Linked DNA regions of Homo sapiens: region 2 is linked to region 1. Evidence: fine-mapped expression QTL. A gene starts in region 1. The other region holds a variant in brackets. All regions are shown on one strand. Distances are from middle to middle.

Region 1 (14,870 bases):
CTCCTTCCTGGTGGCAGAACCAAAAAGGAGCCAGAAAGCAAGGCTTACAGCCTGGTAGCCAGTAACCTAGAATCTCTGCTAGAAGCTGCCTCCAAAGCTGCCATGCACACCTGTCTAAGTGGCTTTGGTCTTGGCCTTGAGAACTTCCTAAGCATGCCTCATTAGGTGCTGTTCCCAGCCAGCAACACCCCGCCCTACCCTTCCACTTCCCCACAGCTGCCTGGACATCCCATGGTCTCACTCACCAAGAAAATGGAAGACCAAGTTCTCCTTTCCCTCATCTACAAAATGCCACACCAATCAATCCAACACACTTCAACTCTCATAGTTTGTTCTCAAAACAACCTGTCAGGGCCGGGTGCGGTGGCTCACACCTGTAATCCCAGCACTTTGGGAGGCCGAGGCAGGCGGATTACTTGAGGTCAGGAGTTCAAGACCAGCCTGGCCAACATGGTGAAACCCCATCTCTACTAAAATACAAAAAATTACCTCCCATTTACCCGAGTGTTCAGGGAAGAGGGTCCTTTGGTCAACTAAATATTGTGGTTAACCATAAGCCCATATATACCAGAGGTGGATTTTATAGGCATGGTGGTGGGCACCTATAATCCTAGCTACTCGGGAGGCAGAGGTGGGAAAATCGCTTGAACCCGGAAGGCGGAAGTGGCAGTGAGCCGAGATCGCGCCACTGCACACCAGCCTGGGGACAGAGCAAGACTCCCATCTCAATAACAACCTGTCAGGCTTCTCCCTTTCGGATGCCTCTCTCTCACAAGAGAGAGCTGCTCTCCTTTCTCCTTTCTTCTGCCTATTAAACTTTCTGCTCCAAAAAAAAAAAAAAGAAACAAAACAACCTGTCAAATGTACTTCAAGGACTTGACAAATCACTGATTTGTTAAAACAAACCCTTCTTTCTTCAGGAATTATACTCTTATTTTCACAGAATAAAACTGATTTACTATTAATAAACAGGAGATTTATCCAAAATCCCTGACAGGCCAAGACCTGAAGTTCCTACTGATATTCAGCAGGCCAGGCTATAAATTCACATGTTATTGAAAGAATATATATAACACCTTCTAGCATCCCCAGAAAACATAACTGTCTTAGCGTGGTGTAGACAACATTCAGCAGGCTAGCCACCACACAGCTGACAGCTATCAGGGCATCTAAGCTTCAGGGAGCACCTGCCACATCCCAGGCACCATCCCTCATGCCTTACACCTAGCTGATGAACACGCTCCTTTTTCCACCAGAGGACTCACCTAACAGCAATACCCTCCATGATCCCATTTGTAAAAGATCGAAACTGCAGCCTTCACATCTATGGTGTTCAAAGGTTAACAATGTTTCCTTCGGGGCAAGTGGGACAGGGCAGTGAATGGGTGAACAGGGGCCTCTGGATGCTACTGCACTGCTCCCCAACCTCGGGGGCTGCTCACTTTGTGGTAATTCATCAAGTTGTCTACTTAATCGTCCACGTATGTAACTTACACTAAGTTTTTAAAAGTTAAGAGGTCCATGTGGACAGAGGGATATGGAAAAAGCGAGCACTGTGGAGTCTTGGGTTCTGGTCCTGGCATCCCCAGTAAATGGTCTATGATTTGGGAGAGTCACCTCTGGGCACCTCCAGGTCTTCATTCCTTACAAAGGGGTCAGATTACATGCTCTCCAATTCTCTCATGGTGCCATGGCTTTGCTTTCGCTTTTAGGTGGGGAAAAAGGAGGGGCAGCTGGATGGGCAGAAAAGTAACTCAAAAGCAAGTGTCTCTACCACCAGGACATCACTGAAACACAAAATACAAAGCCCATCCCGATTCAGGGTGGCATTCTGTACTACGACAGTGTCACGAAGAAAGTTCTAAGTGCCTCTCGGGCAGCAGACAATGGCTGCAGTCACCAGGCACTTTCACTAACAAAACTCATTATCATGTCTAGAAATTTTAGGAGTAACATTTTCACAATATCACAAAGGGGCCAGAGCTGTGAAGGCCAGGGAGCATTCAAACACTGTTATCAGCACTGACTTTGGCCTAATCCTAAAGGTAGGACAGCAAAGTTAAACCAAGGCCATTACAATACCTCCCATTTACCCGAGTGTTCACGGAAGAGGGTCCCTTGGTTAACTAAATATTGTGGTTAACCATAAGCCCATATATACCAGAGGTGGATTTTATATTTCCCGAGACACGATTGAGTCCCTTTTGGGTGATGTGAATGAATCAGAACTCTTAAGGGTCTTGTGAGGAGTGACTCAACGTCAACAAGAACAATGGATAATGTAAAAAGAAAGAAAAAAAATTGCCCTGAATCAGTATAAAAAATTTAGAGACCAGCATTAGTTTATTATACAGACCATGGAATAACTGCAGTATAAGCTTGAGTATAAAATCAAAATGATTTTTTTATAAGCAGATCATCTTTCATTGTGTACAAGTAAAACAAATTTAAGAGCTTCGTATAGGGTCAAGATACATTCTTGAGAGCTGCTGAAAGCTAACTCATTTCTTCGGTTTTGCATCAACCCTGTCATCCACTTTGTTACTTTTTATTAAAATTTGGGTAGCTAGGTTAAAAATGGCAGCCAGCCCTTAAACTACATATAGTTACTAAAAAACAGACATTGTGGTGGGGGCTGGGTGCGGTGTCTCACGCCTGTAATCCCAGAACTTTGGGAGGCTGAGGCGGGAGAATGGCTTGAACCCGGAAGGCGGAGGTTGCAGTTAGCCGAGACTACGCCATTGCACCACTCCGGCCTGGGCAACAACAGCGAAACTCCGTCTCAAAAAACAAACAAACAAACAAAACAAACAAACAAAAAAAAAACGGCCAATAGCGTGCAAGACTTTCTTTTCTCTTTTTCTTTTTTTCACAGGTGGGGTCTTGCTATGTTGCCCAGGCTGGTCTCCAACTCCTAGGCTCAAGCGATCCTCCCACCTCGGTGTCCCAATGTGCTGGGATTACAGGCATAAGCCACCGCACCCAGATGCAAGACATTTCAAAGCAAGTGAAATGAGGACCCCATGGCAAAATAACTGGACCAGAAAACCCTATATCGCCTTCAATACCTATGAGAATTAAGCTCCGATTTTTTTTAGCTTGCCCAAATTCCTATCTAAGGGGTGTAGGAATCATACCCTACAAACCATAAACTCTCATCAGATGGGTTTTATTTGACCCCATATATCGTGACTTACTTTCCAATCTGACTCTGGCATAACATTTTATAAGACAAGGAAAAAAAAATCAAAATATCTAACCCCAAAATATATTTCCTTGCCATACCTTGAAATTGCCCTGCAAAGTCTCTTGTGGGAAAAATCCACATTCTATAGAGAATCCCCTTTCCCCTATGTTTTCCTTCCTTCCTCTCCAGATCCAGGAGATAATCAACTAAGAGCCAGTCACCCTTTCATTTCCATAGAAATATTTTACAACGTGCTCGCTCTCTTAGTCGGCTACCTGAGAGCTTCCTCTGCACAATAAAACTTGGTCTCCACAATCCTTTATCTTAACTTGAATACTTTCTTTCTATTGATTCTAGGTTTTCAGATAAACTCAACCAATTATCAACTAGAAAATGTTTAAATTTACCTATGGCCTGGAAGCCCCCCGCCGCTTTGAGTTGTTTCGCCCTTCTGAACCAAACCAACGTATTTCTTAAATGTATTTGATTGATGTCTCGTGCCTCCCGAAAATATGTAAAACCCAGCTGTATCCCAACCACCTTAGGCACATGTTCTCAGGACCTCCTGAGGGCTGTGTCACGGGCCATGGTCACTCATATTTGCCTCAGAATAAATCTCAAAATATTTTTACAGAGTTTGACTCGTTTTGTCAACACCTAGAATCCAGAGTAAATACATATGCAAACGTCAATATAGATGATACACATGTGCTTCCTGCAGCTTCGCTACCCTTACAAACAGGCAACTGAAGCCAACGGCCAAAGTGTCCTGCGGGACGGGGCTCCAGCCCACCTCGATCACGTGCGCCCAGCACAGGCACAACACAGCTGCCCAAGGGGTCACCCTACAAGACTCACCCACCCCCACAGTGGGAAGCGCAGCCTGAGGGAAGGCCTCGGGGCCCCAGCCGCGCAGGAACCCACTCGAGCCCCGAAGGAGATGCTGCCCAGGGCCTGGGCCGTCCTCCCGGGGGCATTTTCGCAGCCCGCCCCCCGCAGCCCCCAGCCGCCCAGAGAAAGCCAGAGAAAGCCAGCGAACGCGCCTGCGCAGTGCGCGCGCCCCCTTGCCAACTAGGGCAGGGGGAGCAGAGGGGCCAGGCCCGGCACAGCCCATTCTGGGGCAGATGGACGCTGCGAGGCACCTCCTCCCCAGGATGAGGGTCCCAGGGCTTACCCGCGCCCAGGAGGCTGGCCAGGAGGAAGAGGGCGTACATAGCGCCGTCTGACTCCGCAGTCTGCAATGCGGAGCGTCAGCTGATCCCCCGCAGATATAAATCTGCCCTGCCCCAAAGCCGTCCAGAGCGCAGGCGCTAACCCCGCCCCATCCGGGCCTGCCCGAGCTCAACAGCGCCCTGACTCAGCGCCTCTGAGGGCGCCTGCGCGAAGGGGAGGCCAATAGGAGGGGGCAATGGGAGGGGCGAAAGGAAGGGCTATGGGGAGGAGTGAGGAAGAACTTGGAGAAAGGGAAGGGAAAGGTCATAAAAGAAAAGCCCTACTAATTGAATAGGTCAGAGATTATATATGTAAAATACCTTTTAAATCTCCACATTGTTGGCCGGCCGCGGTGGCTGACGCCTGTAATCCCAACACTTGGGAGGCCGAGGCGGGCGGAGGGTTCAAGACTAGCCTGGGCAACGTGGTGAAACCCCATCTCTACAAAAAAAAAAATACAAAAAAATTAGCCCATTGTAGTAGCGGGTTTCACATAGAATAGCTTGGGGTTTCACATAGAATAAGTAGTCGTGTAACAGGGTACAGGGCTCAGTCCTGGCCAGGGGCACGTGGGGGCAGGTGGTGGCACCTGGTCAAAGGCAAGTCTGGGCTGGGCATGCTGGCTCACTCCTGTAATCCTAACACTTTGGGAGGCCGAGGCGGGCGGATCATGAGGTCAGGAGTTCAAGACCAGCCTGGCCAATATGGTGAAACCCTGTCTCTACTAAAAATACAAAAATTAGTCAGGCGTGGTGGCGCTCGCCTGTGGTTCCAGCTATTTCAGGAGGCAGAGGCAGGAAAATTGCTTAAACCCGGGAGGTGGAGGTTGCCGTGAGTCAAGATCGCACTACTGCACTGCAGCCTGGACCACAGAGCGAGAGAGATTCCCATCACCAAAAAAAAAAAAACAAAAAACTTTTAAGCCTCACATTGTGGTACCGTTAAAGATGTAATACCATTCCTCACCCATCATAAGAGATCATAAGAGTCACAACCAACACTCCTGTAACGAGACAGCTTAAGAGAAAAGCATAACAAATTTATGTAATCAACGTTTTATGTGACATGGAAGCCTTCAGAAATTAAGACCCAAAGACCCTCTGCCTGTGGCTGCCCCTGCCAGGACCTGAACAGAGAATGATGATGACCCTCTCCAGAAGGATAAGAACCTGCCAACCGCAAGGCAGGGAAAGGAGGGGAATCTTAGCCCCTTAGGGCAGGCACTTAGAGGTCATTTACCTGTAGGGACATTGAGCCTAGGAGAGGGCAAGACGTTTATCCAAGGTCACACAACAGGTAGAGATAGAACCTGGCCCGAAGCCAGGTTTCCTGACCCAGGAAGGGCAAACCTACAGTTCCTCCAACTTCCTCCAATCTGCAATCCGCTCTGGAGAACAACCCCAGGGACTAAGGCCTCAGAACCTTCAGTTCTGCTCCCCTGCAATCTCCCTAAGTGCCCCCAGCCCCCACCACAGCTCTGACTTCCTCTGGGGAGCCAGATGGGGAAGTGTGCCCCATGCACCACAGTGGGCCATGTGAGGCAGCTGAGTGAGTTGGGACAAGATGTGGTCTCAACTGGACGCCTCACAGGTCGGCCTCAGTGGCCAGATGGAGACTTCGTGGCTGCTCCACCTTTGGGCTTCCCAAGGCCAGGCAGAAGCGTGGGGCAGACCACACAACAACTGGTTAAAAGCAAGGGAGCTAGCCGGGCGCGGTGGCTCACGCCTGTAATCCCAGCACTTTGGGAGGCCGAGGCAGGCAGATCACGAGGTCAGGAGATCGAGACCATCCTGGCTAACAGGGTGAAACCCCGTCTCTACTAAAAATACAAAAAATTAGCCGCACGATGTGGCGGGCGCCTGTAGTCCCAGCTACTCGGGAGGCTGAGGCAGGAGAATGGCGTGAACCCGGGAGGCGGAGCTTGCAGTGAGCCGAGATCGTGCCACTGCACTCCAGCCTGGGCAACAACAGCGAAACTCCGTCTCAAAAAAAAAACAAACAAAAAAAGCAAGGGAGCTGGGGCTCTAGGACAAATCCCCCATCCTTCAGCTCCTTGCAGATGGAGGAGCAAAGCATCCCAGTGCTCCATGCAGAGGTTACAGGACCCCAAGCCAAAAGGACGCTCAGAGACCTCAGATCATCCCCTCTCATCTTATAGAGCTACTGACATCTCAGGGCTGGTTAACAACAGAGCCTGAACCAGGACTTGTTTTTTTTGTTTTGTTTTGTTTTGTTTTGTTTTGTTTTTTGTTTGGAGATGGAGGCTCACTCTATCACCCAGGCTGGAGTGCAATGGTGCGATCTCAGCTCACTGCCACTTCTACCTCCCAGGTTCAAGCAATTCTCCTGCCTCAGCCTCCAGAGTAGCTGGGATAACAGGTGCACGCCACCACACCTGGCTAGTTTTCTTGTATTTTTTGGTAGAGACAGGATTTCACCATGTTGACCAGGCTGGTCTCAAACTCTGACCTGAAGTGATCTGCCTGCCTTGGCCTCCCAAAGTGCTGGGATTACAGGTGTGAGCCACCACACCCCTCCTTTTTTTTTTTTTTAAATATTCCTCCTTCATACCTAGAGGAATATGTCAGTGTTTTTGAGAGAAACTTTTGCTGCCTTTCATCTCCTCACCTGTAACTCAACAGTAATATGCTGCTTCATCCGCCTCGTCCTGAACCCCATGAGGACAGAATTTTAACAAAGAATATAAAAGCAATAAGTAGATTATTATTAATTTTTTTACCTTGTCAGTAGACGCTTAAATCCTCTTAAAAAAAAAAAAAAAAAACCTTCTGAACCATCTGCGTGTAGGCAACAAGAGCTGTGAAGCTCCTCAAACCCTCTGGCTCTCTTATGCCTTTCCTAGCTATGTACCCTCAGGGAAATACTCCAGAAGTGAAGGAATATTTTGTCCGAAGTGTTCACAGAAGGGCCCTTTAGAAACATGGAAGCTGGAAAGATCCCAAGTGCTGAACAATGAAGAGATGACTGTGGAAACTGGCTGGACAGAGCAACGGTACTGAAGCAGCTTTGAAACAGGAGGAGGAGGGAGCAAGGGCTAGGCTGCAGCAAGTCTTCCAGGAACGTGGGTCCCAAGAAACATGGGCAGAGTGAGAGGCCAAACCCCATCTGCTAGTAAGCCCTGCTGCTGACTTCCCAGAGAGGATGGCAGAACTGGTGGAGAGCTTCTAGATCCTGGATCCCATCGGGCGCAGTGGCTCACACCTGTAATCCCAGCAATTTGGGAGGTCGAGGCGGGCAGACCACTTGAGGTCAGGAGATCGAGACCAGCCTGGCCAACATGGTGAAACCCCATCTCTACTAAAAATACAAAAATTAGCTGGGTGTATTGGCATGCGCCTGTAATCCTAGCTACCTGGGAGGCTAAGGTATGAGAATCGCTTGAACCCAGGAGGCAGAGGTTGCAGTGAGCTGAGATCGCACCATTGCACTGTAGCCTGGATGACAGAGCGAGACTCTCTCAAAAAAAAAAAAAACCCCAAAAACAAACAAAAAAAGATCCTGCAGCCTGCCGCACCCCAAAGAGAGGATGCACGGGCAGCCATGGCCCTCCACCCTGTCCCTCTCCCTCCCACAAGTGCAGGATTTCAGCCAGGAGGGGAACAGAGAATTGGAAGTAGGGGGGAAATTCTGACTTTGGATTAACTCATCTTGCATTATTTCACTCATGGAAATGTCCACATTGCAATTTTTAAAAAACAAAATTAATATAGGAAATTTTAAAAGAGAAAAGAAAATCCCTTCCACTACCACCCTCTGGGAGCTCAAGTCTTCAAGGAACTGAAAAGATATTTTTCCTTAGAAATGTGAGCCACGCTTAAGGTTTCTCAATGGCCTTCCAGTTCTGGATCTCAGTTCTGCATGAGGCCCCAATTTTCATGTCTGAGATCTCTTGAAATCCCCACCTGTCAGACCCTTTTAATAATTTTCCAGCCGGGCATGGTGGCTCATGCCTGTAATCCCAGCACTTTGGGAGGCCAAGGTGAGAGGATCACTTGAGCCCAGGAGTTGGAGACTATCCTGGGCAACATGACGAAACCCTGTCTTTACAAAAAAATGCAAAAATTAGCCAGGTGTGGCGACACAGGTCTGTGATCCCAGCTACTCCAGAGGCTATGGGACGGGAGGACGGCTTGAGCCCAAGAGGTTGAGGCTGCAGTGGTGCACCTCTGCTTGTCAGCCGGGGCAACGGAGCAAGACCCCATCTCAAATAATAATAATGATGTTCCCTGTGGCCCCAGATGGCCTCCATCTGTTACTTTTTCTACAACTGAAAGTTCCGGCCAAGACAGCCAAGGAGATAAGACATATCTACCATTGAGGCCCAGCCCACCTGCTTGGCCCCAAGGCTCCACTCCAGTGCCCTAAACAGCAACCCTGGAGCCCCCTAATGCCCTGGAAGCCTCCCTTGACCCCTCACCCTGTCTCAAACAATGACAGGTTCTCTCCCTCCAGCATCTTCCTACTCGAGACCTCTGGCTTCAGACCCTCTAGCCTGCACTTGTCCTTGTGCCTGGAATGAGACCTCAGGTGTCACTCAAGGCAGGCTCAGGCTGTCCCAGGGACACCTCTCCCATCACCCACCAATTCCCAACCTCTGACTTCTCCTCCTATACCCCCACCTCCCCTGGACTGATGGAGCACTCAACAGTGCAGCCAAGCTCACCAAGCCCTCTGTGCTTCTCAGCACCTATTTAGCCTCCCCTGTGGCAGAGTCTGCTACACCCTCTAATATCATTCACCCCCTTCTCCTTGATTTGATAGTTACTAATGAGACCCCTTATTTCTAGCAGGGCACATGGCCACCTAAAATAAAAGCTACACATTCCAACCTCCCTTGCAGCCACGGGACTTCACTGTGGCCAATGAGATTTAAAAAAACAAGTGCCCAATTTGTGACTTCTAGGTACTGCTTTTTAAAAGAAGGCATATATCCAGTGCAAATATTCAAATATTTAACAACTAGTACTGCCAGGACACTGGCCATAGTGCTGGGGGAATGTCCTAGAAGGCCCCAACTGAGCCAGGCTGCTGTCTTGGAGGGGTGGATGGTTCCTGGGGATGACCCGGCAGCGGGGGTGGGCAGCAGGAGGCTAGCAGGTGTTACCAACTGGTACGAAGTCCTTCATAATTTATTTATTTTTATTTTATTTTATTTTTATTTATTTATTTATTTTTATTTTGAGATGGAGTCTTGCTCTGTCGCTCAGACTGGAGTGCAGTGGTGCCATCTTGGCTCACTGCAACCTCTGCCTCCTGGGTTCAAGCAATTCTCCTGCCTCAGCCTCCTGAGTAGCTGGGACTACAGACCTGCGCCACTATGCCCGGCTAATTTTTGTGTTTTTAGTAGAGATGGTGTTTCACCATGTTCGCCAGGCTGGTGTTGAACTCCTGACCTCAGGTGATCTGCCCACCTCGGCCTCCCAAAGTGCTGGATTACACCAACCCTGCTCTTTATAATTTAATTACTGGTACAGTTCTACTGATATGTATCAGCTAAATATCAGCCCTGGCTACAATCTCCTTTCTTCGGCCCGCTGCCTGGATTGCAGACATAATGGCAGGAGCTCAAGCATCCATCCTGGACCATGAGGTAGAAGCCTCTTTAAGGATGACAAAGCAACAAGAGAGGAGCCTGCCTCCCTGATGATTGTACCTGCTCTAGGCTGTCCCTTGCGGGCTTTATTTATGTAAACAAACTCCTATCTTTATTAAGTTTTTGTTATCTTCAGTTTTCTGCTTCATTCCTAATCTTGTTAACAATGCTCAAGCCCCTATGTAATTTTTAATTTATTTCACACCCATTTACTGTTTTACTCCTTCCCTTTCTCTAAGAAGATGTCCTTCCTCTTCTTTGCAAGGCTTTGTGTATTTTCCTCCCCTTTGCAAGTTTAGCCACTAAACACTACTATGCTTTTGCTGATCAGCTCCTGTGACTTTTAGGACAGGACTGATATTCTGTCTATTTTGGTTGTTTAATGCCTGCGTCCTTCACTTTGTTGAATTAATTATTTCCTAACTGCTATATCACCAGGAATCATCGGTGAATATTTTTAATATCACCGCTCTGGTACTTTGCTTTGTCAATTGTTCTTTCTTTATTTTCTCTCTCTTTTTTTTTTTTTTTTTTTTTTTTTTTTTGTGATGGAGCCTTGCTCTGTCCCCCAGGCTGGAGTGCAGCGGTGTGATCTCAGCTCATTGCAACCTCCGTCCCCTGGGTTCAAATGATTCTCTTGCCTCAGCCTCCTTTGTAGCTGGGGCTACAGGCGTGTGCCACCACACCTGTCTAGTTTTTGTATTTTTAGTAGAGGCAGGATTTCGCCATGTTCACCGGGCTGGTCTCAAACTCCTGACCTTAAGTGATCCACCTGCCTCTGCCTCCCACAGTGCTGGGATTACAGGTGTGAGCCATTGCGTCCAGCCCCCTTCTTTTTTTTTTTTTTTTTTTGAGATGGAGTCTCACTCTGTCACCCAGGCTGGAGTGAAGTGGTATGATCTTGGCTCACTACAACCTCCGTCTCCTGGGTTCAAGCGATTGTCCCACCTCAATCTCCCAGGTAGCTGGGATTACAGGCACACACTACCACACCTGGCTAATTTTTGTATTTTTAGTAGAGACGGGGTTTTGCCATGTTGGCCAGGCTTGTCTCGAACTCCTGATCTCAGGCGATCTGCCCGCCTCAGCCTCCCAAAGTGCTGGGATTATAGGTTTGAGCCATGGTGCCCAGCCCCTTTCCTTTTTTATATCTTCTGTCTCCCTCTGTACACTGACTTTTCCCTGTCAGACTATAAGTATGCCCAAGGCTCTCCCATCCTAAAAGAAATCTTTCTTCACCTTGACTTTCACATAAGCCACTGTGCTTTCTCTCACCTTCCCTTCAGTGCCATACTCAGTATGGCATATACACTCACCATAACTACTACTATCCCTCCCAACTATAATCCAGCCCACTGATCCCCCAAATGGCTTCTGGAAAGTAGACAGTCAATTCCTTCTTGGTAAGTCCACCAGCACCTTCTGTTCCCTTTCACCTCTGGCACTGTTGGTTTGCTTCTCCTTTCTACAAGTCCTCCTCTCCCGCCCCCGCCTTTGGCATCAGTGACAGGGTGCCACTCCACAGGGATGCTGAATATGCACCACACACGTCCCCACTGCCTGCTTCCTCATTCATGGCAGACATCACCAATAGACCTTGCCTCCTGAAGCCTTGTCAACTCGGTACTCCTCTGCTTTCAAAGTTGGCTCTTGGGTTAACATATTTGCTGTCTGTCTCAGATGGGGTTGCCTGGGAACCACAGTCTAAGGCTGAGATGAGCAGGCAGGAGTTTATTGGGGTATGTTCTCAGGATCACACCTGTGAGGCCGTGAGGGCAGCAAGATAGGGGAAACCAAACTGCGACAAGGTTGTTACATTGGCCTCAGCCCATACCGCGCTGCAGGGACGGTGCTGCAGAACGGCTGTCAACTGGGGTAAGGGGTGTGGGCCTTTAAAGCCCAAGATAATATGTCCCAGGGGAGGGAGTGTAAGCTTGGGTGAGGGGCTCCGTTGGCTGAGGGGAATTCCTGGAGATGGCACAATTGTGAGCCCTCAGCAGACGAGCCCATGGTGGAGAGACAGTGGGTGGCTTGGTCCTGAAAGAAGAAGCTATATAGTGAATTCCACCACCATACTCTGCTTGCTCTCAGTCATCCTTCTACTTCTCTGACCATTTCTTTTGCTTTTTTTTTTTTTAAGATGGAGTTTTGCTCTTGTTGCCCAGGTTGGAGTGCAGTGGCACGATCTCGGCTCACCGCAACCTCCACCTTCCAGGTTCAAGCGATTCTCCTGCCTCAGCCTCCTGAGGAGCTGGGATTACAGGCATGCACCACCACACCCAGCTAATTTTGTATTTTTAGTAGAGAGGGTGTTTCTCCATGTTGGTCAAGCTGGTCTCGAACTCCTGACCTCAGGTGATCCACCTGCCTCAGCCCCTCAAAGTGCTGGGATTACAGGCGTGAGCCACTGCGCCAGGCCGCCATTTCTTTATAGCAAGCTTGTCCAACCCACGGCCTGCAGGTCACATGCAGCCCAGGACGGCTTTGAATGCAGCCCAACACACATTTATAAACTTTCTTAAAACATTATGAGATTTTTTGTGTGTGATTTTTTTTAAGCTCATCAGTTATCATTAATGTTAGTGTATTCTATATGTTGCCCAAGACAATTTTTCTTCTTCCAGTATGGCTCAGGGAAGCCACAGAATGGACACCCCTGCTTTACGGAACACAAGGCCTTGGTCCTAGCCCAGCTTTGCAATCTCTGTTCTCTCAAACTTCCGACCTTGCCCTCCATCCCATGGTTCCACCTACTCTGCCCACATTCTCTAAGATTGTCTAAATAAGCTATGCAGCTCCACATTTATGTGCCTTATAAATACCCCCATCCCCTACCTCGAATTCTATTCCCTGCCTCTTTCTCTGGTAAACTCTTATTCATCCTTCAAAATCCATTTAAGGCCAGGCACGGTGGATCATGCCTGTAATCCCAGCGCTTTGGAAGGCCAAGTCAGGTGGATGACTTGAGATCAGGAGTTCAAGACCAGCCTGGCCAACATGGTGAAACCCCGTCTCTACTAAAAATACAAAAAATTAGCTGGGCGTGGTGTCACGCGCCTGTAATCCCAGCTGCTTAGAAGGCTGAGGCGGGAGAATCGCTTGAACCTGGTGGGGGCGGGGAGGGGAGGTGGTATGGAGGTTGAGCTGAGATCATGCCACTATACTCCAGCCTGAGCGACAGAGTGAGACTCTATATCAGAAAAAGAAAAAAAAAAAAAAAAAAAAAACAGATACTGCCAGAGGGAAACCTTTGCTATTTGCTATGCTTTAGGAATTGGTGGACACTTCCTCCTCACTGCTCCCTCTGGGATCTGTTCACATCTCAACAGCATTTCTTATTTTGTCCTGTTATTTTTTTAGCAATACATTTATTGAGTGCCTGGTATATACCAGGCACTGTACCAAGGGCTGAAGACAGAGAAATGAAGCACGCAGGCTGAGTGGAAAGGCCACACAAGAGGCTCGTTGTTATGTCCCCACTCCGGGGAAGCCAGATTGCTGGCCGGGCCCACAGCTCCATCAGGGCTCCTTGTACACACGTCCCATTCGGCACCCTGAGGCCCTGTCACCCGCTGGGCTGTGGGTGATCAGATTCCCAGTCAGTCTATTCTGAGAGCCGATCAGTGCATGGGATGCGGCCTGGCCCCACAGCTCTGTCCCCAGATGTTATTCCTATTGGACAGGCGGCCCCCATCAGCTGCTCTCTTGGGGAGAGCAGGAGCTGCCAAGAAGGCCTTGCATGAGCTGGTGAGTCAGCAGCAGCAGGGCAGTGGGGCAGGCCGGGAGCTGCTGAGTCACTGTAGCAGTCTGCAAGTTGGTGAGGTCAGAGCCCCTAGAGAATCTGATGAAAGCTGGGAACACTCTGCCAGAAAAATGCTCAGACACATTTTGCACTGACTTCAGGAGGCTCTCAGGCCTCAGCCACCCATCTGTGGATGTCAGAAGGAGAACCTTAGTAAACCCAAAGAGGGGAAGTGACTTAACTGCTCACAACACCAATAAATAATAGAACTGAGATCAGAGCCAGTTCTCCTGAGTCACAGTCCTGTCAATTTATCAGATTATGTCCCTGTGCCAGGCATCTATCAAAGCCTCCCTTTATTTCAAGGCCCAGCTGCATTTCACCTCCTGGGAAGCCCCCCTGCTTCCTCTAGCCTCAGGCACCTTTCTCCTTCTCTAAATTTCAGATGATTTGCTGCTAGAGCCCTTACTCTTGGGTGAACTTGGAGGGTGAAAAGAACAAAGACTAGATTAGATCAGTTGTTTCTGAGCCTGAAAAGGAAAGCAAGAACTGGGCTGTAATCAAACTGACCATGTTAGCATATCTTAAAACCAAAGCTTCTTAGCTGGGCGTGGTGGTGTGGGCCTATAGTCCCAGCTACAGGAGGCTTAGGTGGGAGGATTGCTTGAGCTATGATTGACCCACTGCACGCCAGCCTGGGCAACAGAGCAAGACACTGTCTCAATAATAATACTAATAATAATAACTGGCATTAATTAGTTGCCTGTTAATATACCTGACTGTCAACTGATCACTCTATATACATAATCTCTCTTTTTTTTTTTTTTTTTTTGAGATGGAATCTTGCTCTGTTGCCCAGGCTGGAGTGTGGCGGCTCGATCTCAGCTCACTGCAATCTTTGCTGCCCAGGTTCAAGCAATTCACCTTCCTCAACCTCCTGAATAGCTGGGATTACAGGCGTGCACCACCATGCCCAGCTAATTTTTGTATTTTTAGTAGAGACGAGGTTTCATCATGTTGGCCGGGCTGGTCTCAAGTTCCTGACCTCAAGTGATCTGCCCGCCTTGGCCTCCCAAAGTGCTGGGATTACAGGCATGAGTCACCATGCCTGGTCA
Region 2 (8,000 bases), 58 kb before region 1:
TATAACTTCTGGAAGAATAAGAAAATTTTGAAAAACATAAGTATAATAAGCCAGATTTGGCTTACCAGATTTTATAACATATTATAAAGCTACAGTATTTAAGGCCATGCAATATGGGCACAAGACTCCAGGACAAAGTAGCCCAGAAACAGATACTGGTAAATTAAAGAATAAAATATGATGTGATAAAGGAAGCAATGAGGCCAATGGGGAAGCTACTTATTCAGTGTGCAAAAACCTATTTAATCTAATCAATTACATCCAATTATTATAATCTGTATGTAATCTAATATAATAATAATGTAATATTTAGTGTAGATTCTCCCCCATGTCAGACACCAAAATAAAAACCAAAAGAAAATATTAAAAAGTAGAAAACACTAAACAATAAATGAAGAAAACTTAGGTGAATAACTCATTTCTGGGTAAGAAGGTTCTAAGCATAAAAGAAAAGAACTTAAGAGGAAAAATATTAAATTTCTATGCATGCTAATTTAAACCTTGTTACATCAAATAATTATAGCCAATATTGAAAGGCAAACAACAAACCAAAAAGTATATTTGTCTTGGTCCAGGCGAGGTGGCTCACGCCTGTAATCCCAGCAATTTGGGAGGCTGAGGCAGGTGGATCACTTGAGGTCTGGAGTTCCAGACCAGCCTGACATGGAGAAACCCTTTCTCTACTAAAAATACAAAAAATTAGCCAGGCATGGTAGTGGGTGCCTGTAATCCCAGCTACTCAGGAGTCTGCTGCATAAGAATCACTTGAACCTGGGAAGCAGAGGTTGCAGTAAGCCGAGATCACACCACTGCACTCCAGCCTAGGTGACAGTGTAAGACTCCATCTAAAAAAAAAAAAAAAAAAAAAAAAAAAAAAAAATATATATATATATATATATATATGTCTCAAGTTGTCATAATTATGTGACTTGTATAATTGACAGAAAAATGGACAAAAGACAAAAGCAGACCATTTGCAGAAGATACAACTAATTATTACATTATAAAATATTGTTTAATCAAAGAATATAAAATAAAATAACATGCCATTTTCCTATAAAATTGCAAGTATGAAAAAGGTATAAAAGAAAATGCTGTCAAGGCTGTCATGAGAAGGGGACTTGAGAAGATCACCAACAAATGTGTCTTGGTAGATCTTTCTGGAAGAGGCCACTGTGCGCAGCTACTCCCTTTTCCCTCTCCAACAGGATTCTCAGTCCTTCAAGTCACAGCCACAGATGAGGACAGTGGCCTCAATGGGGAGCTGGTCTACCGAATAGAAGCTGGGGCTCAGGACCGCTTCCTCATTCATCTGGTCACCGGGGTCATCCGTGTTGGTAATGCCACCATCGACAGAGAGGAGCAGGAGTCCTACAGGCTAACGGTGGTGGCCACCGACCGGGGCACCGTTCCTCTCTCGGGCACAGCCATTGTCACCATTCTGATCGATGACATCAATGACTCCCGCCCCGAGTTCCTCAACCCCATCCAGACAGTGAGCGTGCTGGAGTCGGCTGAGCCAGGCACTGTCATTGCCAATATCACGGCCATTGACCACGACCTCAACCCAAAGCTAGAGTACCACATTGTCGGCATTGTGGCCAAGGACGACACTGATCGCCTGGTGCCCAACCAGGAGGACGCCTTTGCTGTGAATATCAACACAGGTACAAGGGCCTGCACCCCTCCCACCTCCCTCCCAGCTCCCAGTCCTGTCTCCTCGCTCCCTGCTTCCCCCTTCTTTCTCCTTTCTCTTTCTTTGCTGTTCCCTTGCTACTCTCTTCTCTCCCCCTCCTCTGGAGGGAAACCAGAACCGTCCTTCTCTTTTCCATCTCTCCCCTTGCTTTCTTTCTCTGCTTCCTCATCCTCCCTTGAGCAGCTCCTCTGGCCTTCCTGATTCCCTCGCCCTACCAGTGTATGAGAGCACCTATCTCACCACATCATGCCAGTATTAAATATGATAACATTTTCATGTTGGCAATTTTAGAGGAAAGTAATACCTTGTTTGTTCTTTTGTTTTTTGTTTTTGTTTTGGCTTTTTTTTTGAGATGGAATTTCACTCTTGTCACCTAGGCTGGAGTGCAATGGTGCAATCTCGGCTCACTGCAACCCCTGCCTCCTGGGTTCAAGTGATTCTCCTGCCTCAGCCTCCCGAGTAGCTGAGATTACAGACATGTGCCACCACACCCAGCTAATTTTTGTATTTTTAGTAGAGACATGGTTTCACCATGTTGGCCAGGCTGGTCTTGATCATCCTGACCTCAGGTGATCCACCTGCCTCGGCCTCCCAAGTGCTGGGATTACAGGCGTGAGTCACTGCACCCAGCCGTGATACCTTGTTTAATATGCATTTCTTTACTAACTAGGTGGCTGAACACTTTCTTCATATGTATGCTGGCCATTTAAATCCTCTGCAAGTTGCATGCGATCAATGATTTTCTTACACTATCACGAAACCAAGAGAACCATGGCTTATCTTTCACAATGTATGTAGTTTATTGTAATGCTGATGGTTTTATCATTTTCCCAAAAGTTCAGTGTTTTTCTCCTTTGAGGAGTTAGGAAAGGGACATGGAGCTGATACGTGTACTTCTTGGAAGGCCCAGAGGAATGATAGAAGAATCAACATGGCTGTGACAAAGCACTAAAACAGCAGTAAGATATCAGTTTTTCACACGTGATTAGTGGACATTAGGATGCTGGACAATGTTGATATTGGTGACCGTGTGGGGACATGGAAACCCTCATGCACTGCTGTAGGAGTTGTGACTGATTCCACTGTCTGGATAGCAATCCAGCATAAGGGACACTTGTACCACCATTACCCAGTATATGTTCCAGAGAAAGTCTCAGGGCATTAATGAAACTGTCTGAGGATGCTCACTGCAGTGTTATTGGTGATGGTGGAGTTGGGGCCATGCAGGTATCCATTTCTGGGAGACTGAAGAGTAAAATATCATGGGTGTGCATCATGGGGGTACCAGCCAGCAGTGCCAGCGGTGAGAAGCAATAAATTAGACACACACAGAGCAATGTAGATGGATCCTAATAATAAGTATTTACTGAAAAGGATAATAAATGGGATGAGATATATGCCACAGCACCATTTCCATAAATGTAAAATACATACAAAATAATACATGATTTTCAGAAATACTTTTATTAACAAAAAATATACTTCAATACATTACAATGACTGCCTGAGGGGAGAAGGGAAGGAGAGATGAGTATGGGAATGAAAGGGAGTAGACGCACACATAAAACAAGAGAAGTGCCAGTGGTCATAGTGTGCAGCGAGCCAAAGAACATGATAAACTCAATCTGCATTTGAGGCCCAAAGGGAAACAGAAGAAGGAAAAACCATGAGCACTAGGAGAAGTTAGATAGAACCAGCTACATCCCAGGTTAGCAAAATTCCTGGCTGCATGGGTTGGTCAGGACCATGGAGAGCTGCTCCACGTCCCTACTCAACTTGAGGCTCTGCTCAATCCCCTACTGCTTTTCTCTTTCCTGTTCCCCCTTCCTCCAGCTGACTCTCTTCTCTATTTTTCTTTCCAGTGTCTTCTCTGCCCCCTCCTCCTCAGCCCTCCACTCCTCCCTTGCCCACTTTGCTACCTTTTCTTCTTGCCAGAGCCTCAGCCCCTGAGCTCTCCACTCCAAATGGGCTTCCACTTGCTCCCCTGGTTTCCTTCCCAGTGCCTCTTCCCCTCCCCACTCCCTGTTTCCACCCCTCCCTCCCTCCTCCCACCCCGTCAGCTCTGAGTCCCCACCATCCTCCCTGCCCTGCTCTGCTCCATCCCTGCTGCACCCTGAACTAACTGATGTTAACCCTCTTCTCTCTTCCTCATGGCTGGCAGGCCCACAGGTTTGAGCTCTGTTTCTCTGTCACTTCCCACCTCATCTCTTCTCTGCCTCACCCCATTGCCTTCCTCCATGCCCACCACACCCCCACCACCCTTCCTGTCCTGTGGGGCCTGGGCCAAGGCCGTGGCCCAGCCTTTGCAGACTGAATGCAGCCGCCCTCTCCCCATCCTCGCTCCCCAGCCTGGGGGACAGGGAGCGAGAGTAGGAAGAGGAGGAGGAGGAGGAGGAGGAGGCGGCCCAGGGTAAGTGACTACCCCATGGCTGGGGACCCACGGAAGACAGAAGCCCAGCAGGGGGATCTGCCAAGGGGGAAGGGAATCTCAGATACCCC[T/C]GTACCTGAGAGGGAGAGGAGGTCTCACTCTGGGATGAAGCCAATGGGAGGAGAAGCCACCAGGCCCTCTAACAGGCAGGAACAAGAAAGGTCCCAAGAAACGCAGCACTGAGGTCAGCCAAACTAGGTCTGTCCAGTCCCCGCCCATGCTTCTGGGGGGTTCCTCTCTGATTTGGGGAGCAGGCAGGGACTCTGGGAGGCAGTGGGTAGAACAGAAGGAAACCCCTTGCTAGGACTGCCATGGAACCAATGCTCCTGTCCCACAATCAGCCCATGTCACTCCCTATTTAATCAAGACAAAGGGATGGGCCTGAAGTATCCAGACGGTCCCACCACTGTCCCCTCCAGGGAACCCCTCAGGGCTTTTCAGCTACCATGACTTTCCTTTAAACTTGATCTCCCTAGAATCTAAGCATTTTTTAAATGGTGATAAAATACACATAACGAAATTTACCATTTTAGCCACTTTTTAATTGTAGAGTCCAGTAGTGTTAAGTACATTTGCATTGTTAAGGAATACAGCAGTTTTTAAACAAGCAGTTACATAGCTTCTGTGTGCCACGCACTGTTCTAAGTACTTTACAAATGGAAACTCATTTTGTTTTTCTAATCCTCAAAATAGTAGGGTATTGAGAAAAGGATGGGTTGACAGTCGGTAGTGTAATTATCTAGTTTTACAAATGTGGACACAGAGGTGCAGAGAGGTGACATAACTTCCCCAACATCACCTGCTTAGTAAGCATCATGGGAGGGGCAGAGCCACGTGACCCAAGCTTATGAGGAGGCTGTGGGCCCACCCCAGCCACAAGTCCCAGATTCTACTGGGGACCGTCATCCTTTGTGGGGATTGGGAGGGTTTGGCCAGGAGCACCCCTGGGAAGGGCAGATTTTAGGGGGTTCTTCTCAGGCTGAACCTGGCCTGGTCTGGTCCACAGGATCTGTAATGGTGAAGTCCCCCATGAATCGGGAGCTGGTTGCCACCTATGAGGTCACTCTCTCAGTGATTGACAATGCCAGCGACCTACCAGAGCGCTCTGTCAGTGTGCCAAATGGTAAGGTTCCCTGCAGACATCTCTCATTGGTCACTCAGAGCCAATCAGGGCAGGGGGCAGGTGGGGAACAGGCACTGGTCTGTCCCCAGGGAGGGAGCAACAAGACCCAGTTGCTCTGGGGGCCAGGAGTCAGGCAACACAAGAGGCATGAAAGGTGGCAGCCACCGTGAGGCCCAGGGTGGTGATGGCTACATAGAGCTCAGCAGTGGAGGATCCAGAAGCTCAGAATTGTGTGTGATCTGAACCCCCAGGCTGAGAGTAGGAAGGAGGCTTGGTAGAGCCTGGAACAGATTGAGAAAAAATGGTTAGACAGAGGCTTAGGTTCAGCCAGCAGAACTGGTAACCAGGGTGTGGGTAGGATGTGAGATGGGAACCCTATGATCTTATAGGAAGCCACAGGGTTAGCACAAAGGAAGCAAAGAATGAGGGGAGGTAACCTGAGGCCACAGACACTGCTTTGGGGGTGCAGGCACTTACGGTGGAGAACGGAGGGGCCCAGTGTTACCTTCTGCCAATCGGGCCCAGGCCATCCTGCCTGCAGCCTGAGGCGTGGGCTGGGAGGGGGCTGCCAGAGGGGTGGATTTTGTGTGGGCAGAGCGAGAGTTGAGTGGGGGAAGTGGGGATGGGGTGGCCTCAAGTTGCCTCAGCCATGAGGTACAGACAGCTGCTATAGGGGAAGCCAGGCCTGGCAGATGATGACTGCTTATCTTCACAGCCCAGAAGCCCACATTTTCCGGAAGGAAGGGCAGACTTGGTCATCTCTTCCATGTCAGAGGCTCAGATGGTTAAGGGCCCAGGCCGGTTACATAGAGGGGATACATACAGCTCAGACAGGATCTAGGGTCTTAAAGATTATCTTGCCCTTTCTCATTGAGCAGTTTAGGAAACCGGGGCACAGGAAGGGCCGAGGGCTCCACCAGGGTCACCTAGCCCTTCCTCTTATGGAACAGCAAGTGAGCACACCACTGGAAAGCCTCCTGTGCTGCAGCCTGAGGGTCAGGTCAATCCTCAGGCAGCCTCTGGGGGGCTGTGGGATGCTGCCATGCTCACCCGGCTTGGCTGAGGCTAAGGAAGGCCTGGCCCAGCCACACTAGTGTCCTTCCCCTCTCCCTCACTCCCTGCCTCCACCACAGCCAAGCTGACTGTCAACGTCCTGGACGTCAATGACAATACGCCCCAGTTCAAGCCCTTTGGGATCACCTACTACATGGAGCGGATCCTGGAGGGGGCCACCCCTGGGACCACACTCATTGCTGTGGCAGCCGTGGACCCTGACAAGGGCCTTAATGGGCTGGTCACCTACACCCTGCTGGACCTGGTGCCCCCAGGGTATGTCCAGCTGGAGGACTCCTCGGCAGGTAGGTTAGAAATCTGTCAGAGGAGGGCTGGGGGACATATATCTCTGCTTGCTTAGTCCCCAAGAGAGACCACAGCCCCTCTGTGGCTCCTCAGTGGACTGGGCCAGATCCAAGATGGCCAGCATTCCATGCCAGATTCCAGATGCCCAAACCAGGGGAAGGGACAGAGTGCTTACTCCTGGGTTGGGATGGAAGCCTCTTGATGTCTGCCGGAAACCTGGGATACCCCACCACCCAAGCTCCTACTATTAGTACCACCGAGGGAGCAGGAAGGCCAAGAAGGAGGTGTCTCAGGTCCTGGGCTAGTTGATGCTCATTCCTGTGACTGGGAGAAGCTTTTTCACCCTCCATAAGAAAAACTGGACACCAGTCCCTCCCTGCCGTGTGCCCTGCAACTGGGTGGTGCTGCCTGACCACCCTCCTTCAAGTGACCACAGCTGCCCCTCGGAGTCCAGGTCTTTCTCCTCATACTTTGGAGAGCTGCCATGAATGAGGAGTGGCCAAAATGGCAGTGGGAGCCTCTGTGTCTTAGGGAAGGTCATTGCCAACCGGACAGTGGACTACGAGGAGGTGCACTGGCTCAACTTTACCGTGAGGGCCTCAGACAACGGGTCCCCGCCCCGGGCAGCTGAGATCCCTGTCTACCTGGAAATCGTGGACATCAATGACAACAACCCCATCTTTGACCAGCCCTCCTACCAGGTGGGTGGCCAGGCCACAGGCTGGGTCCAGGACCTGCGCCCATTCCTTGGGGTCTTTGGGCATCTTCCTCTCCCACCCTGCCAGCCTCTAAGCCCCCTGGGAGTGCCCAGCCCACGAGCAGCTTGATGCCTGCATCAGTGAGTTCTAGGGCTGTGCTCGGGCTCTGGGACTGACCTTGGCCTACTCTCTCTCCCTGCCCCCTGGGCTCCAGGAGGCTGTCTTTGAGGATGTGCCTGTGGGCACAATCATCCTGACAGTCACTGCCACTGATGCTGACTCAGGCAACTTTGCACTCATTGAGTACAGCCTTGGAGATGGAGAGAGCAAGTTTGCCATCAACCCCACCACGGTGAGCAGTGATGGAGGGCCTGGAATTTGGAAGTGGGAAGGACCCAGGGTCAGAGACTGAGCAGCCACCAAAAGTATTGTAGTAATCCCTCTGGGTCTTGTCGCCTGGACATCTGCATCCCCAGAGGTTCTTTAGCCAAGTCAGCAAACCCTGTTCTCAGAGTCCCAGACATTTGGTAGACTGTGGCCTTTCTGTCTCAACAGATGTTTAAGGAAGTGGCCAAGTCTTTTGGAATGAGCCCTTTGTGGGACAACATCTGAGATGTGTCCTCTCCACACTAAAAAAGCATGATTGAAGTCCATGGGGCTTCTTTTTGAGACAGTCAGAAAAGAAGCAGGGGAAGC

Direction of the effects. Alleles are on the strand shown, and positions count from the first base shown. SD is a standard deviation of normalised expression in the study named.
In carriers of allele T in region 2, the expression in esophagus mucosa of the gene that starts at base 4,431 in region 1 tends to be lower than with C alone (small effect, 0.16 SD a copy in GTEx).

Evidence for each region.
Region 2: its variant is fine-mapped to the expression of PSAP in esophagus mucosa (GTEx, PIP 0.91).

Annotation. Positions count from the first base shown.
Region 1 is chr10:71,846,821-71,861,690 of GRCh38, forward strand. It overlaps PSAP (prosaposin), which reads right to left and starts at 4,431. Exons shown (of 14, transcript NM_002778.4): 1 at 4,362-4,431. The coding sequence starts at 4,401. RefSeq lists enhancers at 2,690-3,189, 3,581-4,111, 4,112-4,642, 13,694-13,838, 13,734-13,878 and 1 more, a silencer at 13,035-13,269 and cis regulatory regions at 13,418-14,437, 13,761-13,771, 13,801-13,811.
Region 2 is chr10:71,791,974-71,799,973 of GRCh38, forward strand. It overlaps CDH23 (cadherin related 23), which reads left to right. Exons shown (of 70, transcript NM_022124.6): 48 at 1,209-1,667; 49 at 5,131-5,247; 50 at 6,381-6,605; 51 at 7,138-7,307; 52 at 7,519-7,656. Among named protein-coding and RNA genes, the nearest start is that of MIR7152, 5.2 kb to the left of the region's middle. The variant T/C (reference allele first, on the strand shown) is at 4,196.